Linked DNA regions of Homo sapiens. The protein of the gene in region 1 purifies or fractionates together with the protein of each later gene. This does not show direct contact. Each region holds a gene or a part of one and is shown on either strand. Other genes may lie near its edges.

Evidence for each region.
Region 2: the proteins of SLC44A5 (region 1) and SLC12A6 purify together in Homo sapiens (affinity purification with mass spectrometry; one large-scale study listed by BioGRID and IntAct). This does not show direct contact.
Region 3: the proteins of SLC44A5 (region 1) and CNNM1 purify together in Homo sapiens (affinity purification with mass spectrometry; one large-scale study listed by BioGRID and IntAct). This does not show direct contact.

Annotation. Positions count from the first base shown.
Region 1 is NC_000001.11:75,604,490-75,608,185, reverse strand, and holds part of SLC44A5 (choline transporter-like protein 5), read left to right. Parts: intron 1-3,696.
Region 2 is NC_000015.10:34,233,282-34,236,854, reverse strand, and holds part of SLC12A6 (solute carrier family 12 member 6), read left to right. Parts: intron 1-39; coding exon 40-147; intron 148-655; coding exon 656-840; intron 841-1,540; coding exon 1,541-1,674; intron 1,675-2,882; coding exon 2,883-2,974; 3' UTR 2,975-3,573.
Region 3 is NC_000010.11:99,384,740-99,388,435, forward strand, and holds part of CNNM1 (metal transporter CNNM1), read left to right. Parts: intron 1-3,080; coding exon 3,081-3,264; intron 3,265-3,412; coding exon 3,413-3,562; intron 3,563-3,696. UniProt on the Homo sapiens protein: Probable metal transporter.

The DNA.
Region 1 (3,696 bases):
GTTTTGTTTTTGCTATTGACTTACAACAACATGGATAAACCTGGAGGACTTTATACTAAGTGAAATCAACCAGGCACAAAAAGAAAAATACTGTATGATCTCACTTATATGTGGAATCCAAAATTATTGAACTCATAGAAGCAGTGAGTAGAATGGTGGTTGCCAAAGGCTGGGGGAGTGGGAGAAGTGAGGAGATACTAGTCAAACAGTACAAACTTACAGTTATAAGACAAGTTCTGGGGACATAATATACAGCATAGATAGTGATGGATATTGTATTAGTTTGTTTTCATGCTGCTAATGAAGACATACCCAAGATTGGGTAACTTATAAAGGAAAGAGGTTTAATTGACTCACAGTTCCACATGGCTGGTGAGGCCTCACCATCATGGCAGAAGGTGAATGAGGAACAAAGTCACATCTTACATGGCAGCATGCAAGATAGCATGTACAGGGGAACTCCCCTTTATAAAACCATCAGATCTCATGAGACTTACTATCATGAAAACAGCATGGCAAAGACCCACCCCCATGATTCAATTACCTCCCACTGGGTCCCTCCCATGACATGTGGGAATTATGGGAGTTACAATTCAAGATGAGATTTGGGTGGGGACACAGCCCAAACTATGTCAGATGTGTTATTAAATTTGGTTGTAATAATTATTTATTATACAACGTGTACATATACCAAATCATCATGTTGTACACTTTGAATACATACAGTCTTTATTTGTCAATTAATATTTTAAAATAAAAAGTTGCTTATAAAAAATAATTCAGTTGAGAGATGATAGTGGCATCTATCAGGGTAGAAGCAGTGGTGAACATGAGAAATGGAAGGATACTGAATATATTTTTAAGGTAGAACTTATATAATTTTAAAAACTAACAGGATGTTTCATGTGAGAGAAAGAAAGGAGTGATGGATTAATGCACAGTTTTTGACCTAAACAACTAAGAGAAGGTGGACTTGGCATCAACTACTATTTGAAGATTGTAGAAGGGGCAAGTTTATGGGGAAGGATCAGAAGTTTAGTTTTGGACACATTTGGGTTTGAAATATTTATTTGATATACAAGTGAAGATGACAAGTAGGAAGCTGGATATGTAAGTCTGGAGTCTTGGAGAGAGGCTTGGGCTGATCATATGAATTTGGAATTCATCAGAACATTGGTGGTATTTAAGATCACAGACTGGAAGACTCACTGGGAATTGAGTATAGATTGAGAGAAATGATCTGAGCCCAGGGCTGCTCCATTATTAAGAGATAAGTGAGAAGGGGAGGAGTCAGTAAAGGAGATTGAGAAAGAGCAACTGGTGACTAAGAAGTGGGTGTGGGGTCTTGGAACCAAGGAAGAAAGTGTATCAAGGAGGAAAATGATAATCAACAGTGTCAAACGCTGCCCATAGGTCAGGTAAGATCAGGGTTGAGAAATGGCCATTGTATTTATTAATATGAAAGTCATTGAAGACCTTAATTAATTAATATGAAAGTCAAAGACAGCCCAGGTGAAGTGGTGGCAATGATGCTTTGAGTGAAGTGGGTTAAGAGAGAATGAAGAGGAGGAAAATTAAAGACAGCACAGTTAACTGTTTTGAAGGGTTTTGCTTTAAAGGGAGCAAAGAAATGATATGGCTGGGGATGGGAGTTGTGGAGTTGAAAAAAGATTTGCTTTTTTAAGATGGAAGAATAATAGTGGGTTTTATTCCTTGTTGTTTGTTACTATCTGTGTATTGAGGTGGGTTTTAACCTCTCTTTTACTATTTTAAATTTTGGGTGCTTTTTATGACAGTTTCCTATGGAGGTAAGATGAATTAATGTAGAATGGTCTTATGTTGCCTAGTTCTAAGGATGTTTCTCTTTTATCTTCTTTTACGTCTTTAAATGTATTATCTTTAAGAAATATTAAATGGAGTATTAAGAGAGGTATAGAAATGGATTTTCTGACAAAATAATAAAATATGCCATAGTAGGAAAAAGTTTCCAGAAGACAAGAGTTTGCCAGTCATCTTGTTGCTGACTGTGGCAGTCCATTCCCTCACTTGAAAGGATCTTAAAGAACTAAAGAAAAATTAAAAAAAAAAATTGTGCGGGAACTAGCCTAATGCTTCTCAACCAGGGGCAATTTTACAGTGTCTGGAGATATTTTGATTGTCATGACTGGAGTGGCGCTGGTGGCATCCAGTGGGTAGAGACCAGGGATGCTACTAACATTCTATAATGTACCTCCTCACAACAAAAGATTACCTAGTGCAAATTGTCAATGTTGCCAAGGCTGAGAAGCTATGGGCTAGCCCTATCATCTTTCCTTTCTTCCAGAGAGAAGCTAGGAAGCTGCTTCTGAAAAAGGGATCCGGAAGCAGGAGCTTTCCCTATCCCATTGTTCTGTGTTTAGATGAGACACAGCTTTTAAATAAATGATTAGGGTTCAAAATAAAGACATTTCTTTTTTGCCTTTGCTTTCTCTTTACCCCCTTCTGTGGATTCCCATAGTATAATCGAATTTTATAACTTTTGGTAGTTTCCCATTAGGGCCCATGACAGAGGAACATTAAAGTCATGGTGAAAAATTCCTCATTCAGTTGAGAAACCACAATTTCACATTGCTGATTTCTATTCTGCATCTGTCTGACAACTTAGTGAAGGAAAGGATGAAGAATAGGGTGATTTGTTAAGCTCTGACTCTACAAATCACTATAGCTTTTTAATATGAAAGGAGGGGTGGCCTCTCAGGCATCTTTTTTTGTAGCTTTTTTGGGCCATTAGGATTTTGGATGAGAGCTGCATTGTTTATTTATTTATTTTTATTTTTTCTCCACCTTCTCATTCTTAATAACTCTACCTTCAATATGTGCCTTATCTTTTAAGAAAGGCTCTGAAGAAACTCAGAACAGGTCCTAAGTGCTTGTTGAATGAAAATTTTCTTGTAGAATCAAAAATTTAAAACCCAATTTTAAAAGAAGCAATTTTAAATTCATAGTTTTTAAAAACTTAAAAGGCAGGTTTTTAAATGTAAATTTGCTAGTTCTCTGGATTGTCTTTCAGTGTTCAAAGTCAAAGACAAAAATCAGGCTTTCAAATTGACATTTTAGGAAGCATCCCCCTTGAGAACTGGAACAAGACAAGGATGCCCACTCTTCCCACTCCTGTTGAACACAGTACCGGAAGTGCAAGCCAGAGCAATCAGGCAAGAGAAAGAAAGAAAAGGCATCCAAATAGGAAAAGAAGAAGTCAAACTATCTCTCCTAGGAATCCCTAAAGACTGCCAAAGACTTTTGGAACTGAAAAATGACTTCAGTAAAGTGTCAGGATACAAAATCAATGTACAAAAATCAGTACCATATCTTTACACCAATAATGTTCAAGCTGAGAGCCAAATGAAGAACATAGCCTAATTTACAGTACACACACACATACACACACACCCCTTGGTTTCACCTCTAACCAAGGAAGTAAAAGGTCTCTACAAAGAAAACTACAAAACGCTGCTGAAATAAATCATAGATGACAGAAACAAATGGAAAAACATTCCATGATCATGGATTGGAAGAATAATAAAATGGTCAAACTCCCCAAAGCAATCTACAGATTCAATGCTATTTCTATGAAGCTACCAATGGCATTTTTCACAGAATCAGAAAAAACTATTCTAAAATTCATATGGAAGTAATAAAGTAATAAAGAGCCCAAAT
Region 2 (3,573 bases), on another chromosome or scaffold:
TTTGTGCTTTTTGCCCCTTTTATGTGATGTCTATGGCAGCATGACAGTGATATATCAGCATATACTTACGAGCGCACTTTGATGATGGAACAAAGGTCCCAGATGCTCCGGCACATGCGGCTATCCAAAACAGAGCGAGACAGAGAGGTGAGACATTACTGCATCAATCCAATCCGTGCTCTCTAAAGTCTGTCACTGAAAGGGATGATACTGGGCTGGGCATGGTGGCTCACGCCTGTAATCCCAGCACTTTTGGAGGCCGAGGCGGGTGGATCAAGAGGTCAGGAGTTCAAGACCAGCCTGGCCAAGATGGTGAAACCCCATCTGTACTAAAGTACGAAAATTAGCCGGGCATGGTGGCACATGCCTGTAATCCCAGCTACTCAGGAGGCTGAGGCAGAGAAGTGCTTAAACCCAGGAGGCGGAGGTTGCAGTGAGCCAAGATCACGCCACTGCACTCCAGCCTGCGTGACAGAGGAAGACTCTGTCTCAAACCAAAAAAAAAAGGGATGATACTATATTGTTTTCAAGGATGACAAATTCCTTCTCACTCTGTCAGTTATTCCACTATAACCCATTACTGCTTCAAAATAACCAAAGATGAAGCATAAGAGAAAATTTGGTAGAATAACTTGTGTTGGACCTTCTTCCTCAGGCACAATTGGTGAAAGACCGAAACTCAATGCTACGATTGACCAGCATTGGCTCTGATGAGGACGAAGAGACAGAAACCTATCAGGAGAAGGTGCACATGACTTGGACAAAAGACAAGTACATGGCATCCCGGGGACAAAAAGCGAAGTCAATGGAAGGATTCCAGGACCTGCTTAACATGCGTCCGTAAGTTTTCCCACTCCCAAGTTTATCATAAAATTACCTAATCAGTGGCACAAATGTGACTTTGCCTGGACACACAGGATGGAGTCTGTTCATTTCACCCTGAATCTAGCCACCTCATTATTGTTTGCCTGTTCATACTGGCTCCCAATGAACACTGTACACAAGCTAACCATCCCCTCTATCCACATAGTTCACCTCCATACTGTGTTCTTACTATAAAATAAGCCAACAGAGAATGAGAAAACCCAGATATTAATATCATAAAGAAACCATTTTAGCCTGGGCACAGTGGCTCACGCCTGTAATCCCAGCACTTTGGGAGGCAGAGGCGGGTGGATCACCTGAGGTCAGGAGTTCGAGACCAGCCTGCCCAACATGGTGAAACCCTGTTTTTACTAAAAATACAAAAAAAATTAGCCGGGTATGGTGGTGGGGGCCTGTAATCCCAGCTACTCGGGAGGCTGAGGCAGGAGAATCACTTGAACCTGGGAGGCGGAGGTTGCTGTGAGCTGAGATTGTACCATTGCACTCCAGCCTGGGTGACATGAGCGAAACTCCCTCTCAAAAAAAAAAAAAAAAAAAATCATTTTATCAGATTATCCATAGTCAAGTGAAAAAGCTCAGGATCTCAAGTTTTTAACGTTGACTTTATGGCTAGTTGTCTTTTTACCTTAACAACCTTTATTTCTTCCCCACTCAGGGACCAGTCCAATGTGAGGCGGATGCATACAGCAGTGAAACTCAACGAGGTTATAGTTAACAAGTCCCATGAAGCAAAGCTGGTTTTATTGAATATGCCAGGGCCACCCCGAAACCCTGAGGGTGATGAAAACTGTATCCTTTCCAAGAGTGGGGCTTCCAGTAGGGAAAATCTCCTTAACCTCTTTCTGAGATAACTAGGTAACAATAAAAGTCATTGTCTATGCCCCACTTTCCCTCTTTAAGGAAGGGAGACTTAAAAGTCCTAGGCAAGGATTTTTACAAAGTTATAAGATTAAACTCTTTTAGGGGAGTTGGGGCAAATATAATTCAGTTCTAGTTTTAGGTGGTGTATTTGCAACATGACATCTAATATTCAGTGTATAAAACCCTTCCTGACAATCCTACAGACAGCATACCCACATCCTTTCGCCTTTTTAGGTTCTACCCGCTTTGCAAAGCCTTTCTTTTGGATAGAGTTAGGGGAGAAGCTGAGATAGAACCTCCTTTAACTGAGGGGAAAAAAGAGATAGGGATTCTTCCTCATACCTTCATCCCAGGACTCCTGGGATACGGGAAACCCTTCAGCATTGACACATAAATTAGCTTATTCCCACCAGTACCATTAAGAAAGAAGAGGTTTAGGCCAGGTGTGGTGGCTCATGCCTGTAATCCCAGCACTTTGGGAGGCTAAGGCAGGTGGATCACCTGAGGTCAGGAGTTCGAGACCAGCCTGGCCAACATGGTGAAACCCCGTCTCCACTAAAAATAGAAAAGTTAGCTGGGTGTGGTAGCAGGTGCCTGTAATCCCAGCTACTCGGGAGGCTGAGGCAGGAGAATCACTTGAACCAGGAGGTGGAGGTTGCAGTGAGCCAAGATCGCACCATTGCACTCCAGCCTGGGCAACAAGAGGAAATTCTGTCTCAAAAAAAAAAGAAAGAAAAGAAAAAGGTTTAAAAAGAAAAAGACAAACCGAACTGGCAGAAAAATCTGACTTGAGCAGCTTCACTTAGAAATTACTTGGGTTCTCTCTAGGAATCTTGTTAGCTGCCCTATTGTGGCTTTTCTTCTTCTTTCATCATTTTTATCTTATTTAGAGTAACACTTCTAGGTTTTCCCATTTTTTAAATACACAAATGGGAGTCTGGTATTATGTATGCAAAAGGACTGGATCTCTGGTTACTTCACAGGGTTAAATTCAATCCAAAGTTCAGACTTTTCTGAATATATAATAATTAAGCAGCTAATTTTGTAGCTCTATGATCAGATAACCTCAGATTATGATGATGCCAGGTTTTAAGTTTGTGCTCTTCTTTTGCCTGTCTCCTTGACAAGTTTTGAAGACATGGAGTTCCTAGAGGTGCTTACCGAGGGACTAGAGCGAGTCCTACTTGTCCGGGGTGGTGGCAGTGAAGTGATCACCATTTATTCATAACCTACTCTGAATGACCGTGCTTGACCTGTTTTCTTAAAAGGCCTACGTCCTCCATGGAAGTGCCAGCTCATTACTACCACTCCCACTCAACTAGAAGCCTGTGTTCTGTACACATCATACTGAACTCTTGATGAGCTGAGCCTCAAGTACCTGTGTAAAAGAGCTCCCATCTGATCTGCAGTCATTACAGAAAAAGCAAATATTCCCTCAACATCAGAACAATGCTCAAGTCTTTCAAGCCACGTCTGAGCAGTCAAAGGCAAATTAGAATTAACAAGCTGAGCCAATAAATGAATTGGTAAAAGGGATGCTAGAAATTCAACTGAAGAAAAAAAGCAAGTCAAGTACGTATTCAGCATTAAAGATGAATCTCAGAAGTCATGGTTCAATGTTGACACTGTGAGGATAACAACTAGAGACAGCTTCATCTTACTAAAGAATTTATGGTCAAGTATATTTGGACCTATTATCCTCGGCAAGCCAAGATGCAAACATTTTTTAGCTATATTTCTTTAGTATACCCACTGCTGTAATTTTATATTAGGATACTAACTTGAAACATGGCTGCAGCCTCTACTTCTTCAAAAACATCCCCCCAA
Region 3 (3,696 bases), on another chromosome or scaffold:
AGGTAACAAGAGGGGCTTATCATTGTTTTTTAAAAACAAAAAGAGGCCGGGTGCAGTGGCTAACACCTGTAATCCCAGCACTTTGGGAGGCTGAGGAGGGTGATGTCACCTGAGGTCGGTAGTTCAAAATCAGCCTGACCAATATGGTGAAACCCCGTATCTATTAAAAATACAAAAAAATAAGCTGGGCGTCGTGGTGTGCACCTATAGTCCCATCTACTCAGGAGCCTGAAACGAGAATTGCTTGAATCTGGGAGGCAAAGGTTGCACCACTGCACTCCAGCCTGGGCAAGACAGAGCGAGACTCCATCTCAAAAAAAAAAAAAAATTAAAAAAAGAGTGGTACAACTCACTGAAGATAAAATCTGGGCAGAACTTTTCCAAAAATAAATTAGTTAAATAATATAGAGCATTTTGCAACAGTAGTCATTCCCAAGAGACTTCCAGCCTGGGGGACGCAGCCAGTCTACCAACTTATAGGGGCCCTGAGCCAGGAAATCCATTTCAAAGCCTACTGAAACAGCCCCTTCCTTCTCTCTTCCTCCTCTCCTTTCTTCACTCACTGTCCCTTTCCTTCTGTCCCGCTTCTCCACTGTCCATAGTCGGAATTGCCTTCCTTCCCCTACTTTCCCTTTTGCTTTATTTTCTTGATTAAGGATTTATTTTTCCAAGACCTAGTCTTGCTTTCACAGAATCTCCAGTCACACTGACTTTGGGGGCAGAGAGGACACTGCTCCTTCCCCCACCTCCACCCTGTGTGTGGCATCAGCAATTTAGACATAATGAGATGGTAAGCTTGACAGCTGTCTTTGAAATGTATGCCCATTATAAAGTCAAATGGTGAGACATGCATGTGGGCATGTTTTAAACAACCATTCCTAACAGTTTCATATAATGGATTCACTCATGTTATCTCATTATCTCTGGGCCTCTTTTATAAGATCAGAGAGGTTAACAATGTGGCCAGTGTATTCATTTGCCCATTGGCTGATTAAAAATGTATATGTATTTGGCCAAGGTCTCCCAGCTTGAAAGTGGCAAAATTGGGACTTGAACTTCAGTTCTTGGCACTGTGTTTCCTGCCATATTTCTTAGGTGAAGGGACATTTGGCCTTTGACTAAACTAGAAGCCAAATCTAAATAACTAAAGAACCCAAACAGAGTAAGATCAACTGCTTTACTGGGCTTACCAAGTGTCATTTAGGGAATTTTCCCATCCTTTGGTGTTAGAGCCAAATTTCCTCATCTTTGGGGGAAATTTTGGAACGTGACTTCTCACTTCCCAACAGAGGGAATTGCAAAAGTCAGGTGTTTTCAACAAGAACATTGAATCGATTGAAGACTTTGGATAAATGCTAAGTGGAGACCTGTGGTTCCATGCCATAAAGCATGGAATATACCATTTTGACCTGAAAAATATCGAAGCCAGTTGTTAACACTTTGCTGCTTTGTCCTGTAAAATCCTTTAGAAGAAAAAAACCAAAACCTGAGTAGTACCTGTAACTAATTTTAACTAGGTCTTAAGTCAGCAGTTCTCAAAGTGTGATCTCCAGACTAGCAGCACCAGGAACACAGGAACTTGCTAAAAATGCAAATTCTCAGTCTCCACCCCAGACCTAGTAAATTAGAAACTCTGAGAGTTAAACCCAAAAATCTTGTTTTAACAAGTCCTTCAGATAATTCTGATGCTGAGGTTTGAGAATCACTGATTTAAACCATCAAGAGAAAACTCTATTTGCCCACTCAAATGGGCAGTAGTATAACTAGAAGCCTGGAATCTCTGCATGTATGTGTCCCATATGCTCTGCAAAAAGGCACGTATTCTTAACTGGTGTTTTGTGATTCGATTGGTTGTGCTTAGAATTTGCTTGGTTCTCTTGCAAAATATCCTGAAGTTGGTTAAAGAAAGGATTGATCGTGTCCAGTAAAATAATGCGTCTTGTCAGTAGTTGACAAGGAGCCACTGTTGAGACCTTGCCGGATACAAAGCCAACTTCAAGCCTACTCTCTTTCCCAACATGTCAGCCTTAACCATCCCCTCTCCTATTTCCAGCAGAAATCTTTTCTCTTTCAACGTGTAATACCAATTCTGCCCCAAAGGAAAGAGAAGGCAAAATGAGCAGAATTTGTGGTTTTGTCCGTTCACTAGCGCTAATGCAGTGAAGGAGGGATGAAAACGCTTTAGGAGATGGTATGATTGGGAAGGATATTATGCCATGTACCATTTCCCTTCTTCCCCCAGTGCCAGCCGCTGATGAGTGGTTTCACATTCCTGTACTGGGTGGCACACAACCTAGTCTGTTTTCACTGCTAGCAAGGATTCACAGTGCCAGTCTGTTATGTACACCCAGAGAACAGGGGTGACAGAGACACCCTCCTGCCTTTTAGAAGAGATATTTGATCCATATTTTTCCTGCCTGGAATCGTGGAGACTCCTGTCTGGTCTGGCTGCAGCCTGACCCTCCGGATGCCTTCAGTTGTGGGTGTTTGACACATCAGGAAAGTCACAAGTCTGACTCCTGTGATTTGAGGAGACAGCTGGGAAACCTCCCTGCTGTGGTCCCAGCCAGCATAGGAGCATGACCCTACATCCAGGGATGGGCTTAGTCCAAATCAGAAATGCCTGTGTTCTCTCAGGCCTTAGCCTCCAGCTTCCCGACACTGAGACCTAGGGCATGAGAGCTTCCCTGCTGGAGTCCTACCTTATTCTCACCAAGTCACCCCCGACTGACCCTTTGGGCCTTTGGCAATAGTATAAATGGGTGTTTTAAACTTCTCCATGGGCAACCACCCTGCTCTCAGAAGATGCCCTCCATCCTCTCCAGGGTCTCAGAAGGCTTGGCTCTTCCAGGTGCCAATAAAAATGAACAGTGGGAGCTGGTGGCAGACCAGCAAAGGGCCGCCTCACTGTCCCTGCTGGACTGCTACAGCGTGGGTAAGGCCCCCATTCGTGGATCTCAGGCCTCAGAGGCCGAGGGTTCCAAGCACCCCAGCGAGGCTGCCCCCGAGCCTGGGAAGGCTGGCTGCATCCGGGTGGTCTCTGCCTAGCTGCTCCTAAGCTCCTGCCCTCTTCCTTCCAGATCACACGGCAGCAATATCAGAACGCACTCACTGCCTGCCACATGGACAGCTCACCTCAGTCCCCTGACATGGAGGCCTTCACAGACGGGGACTCCACTAAGGCCCCCACAACCCGGGGCACACCCCAGACCCCTAAGGATGACCCCGCCATCACGCTCCTCAACAACAGGAACAGCCTGCCGTGTAAGTCAGCTGGGCAGACGGGCAGGCTGGGCTGGTGTGGGGTGAGGATGACCCTGCCTTCCTCTTCTAGCCCTTCCCAGGGCTCACACCACCTGAGCCCTGGGTCTTCTCCAAAGCAGAGAGGTGATGCACTCACTGTCCTCCCCAGGCAGCCGCTCAGACGGGCTGAGAAGCCCCAGCGAGGTAGTGTACCTGAGGATGGAGGAGCTGGCCTTCACCCAGGAAGAAATGACTGACTTCGAGGAGCACAGCACACAGCAGCTCACGCTGTCTCCTGCAGCCGTTCCCACGAGAGCAGGTCAGGGAGGCCAGCTGGGCCCAGTGCAGCAAGGGAGATCATTGCCTTTGGGCACTGGGATGGCCCAGGGAAAGCTGGCTGAGGGGAGCCCTGGGACCGCAGCCCGTGCGTTAAACCTCCGACCTCCTTACACA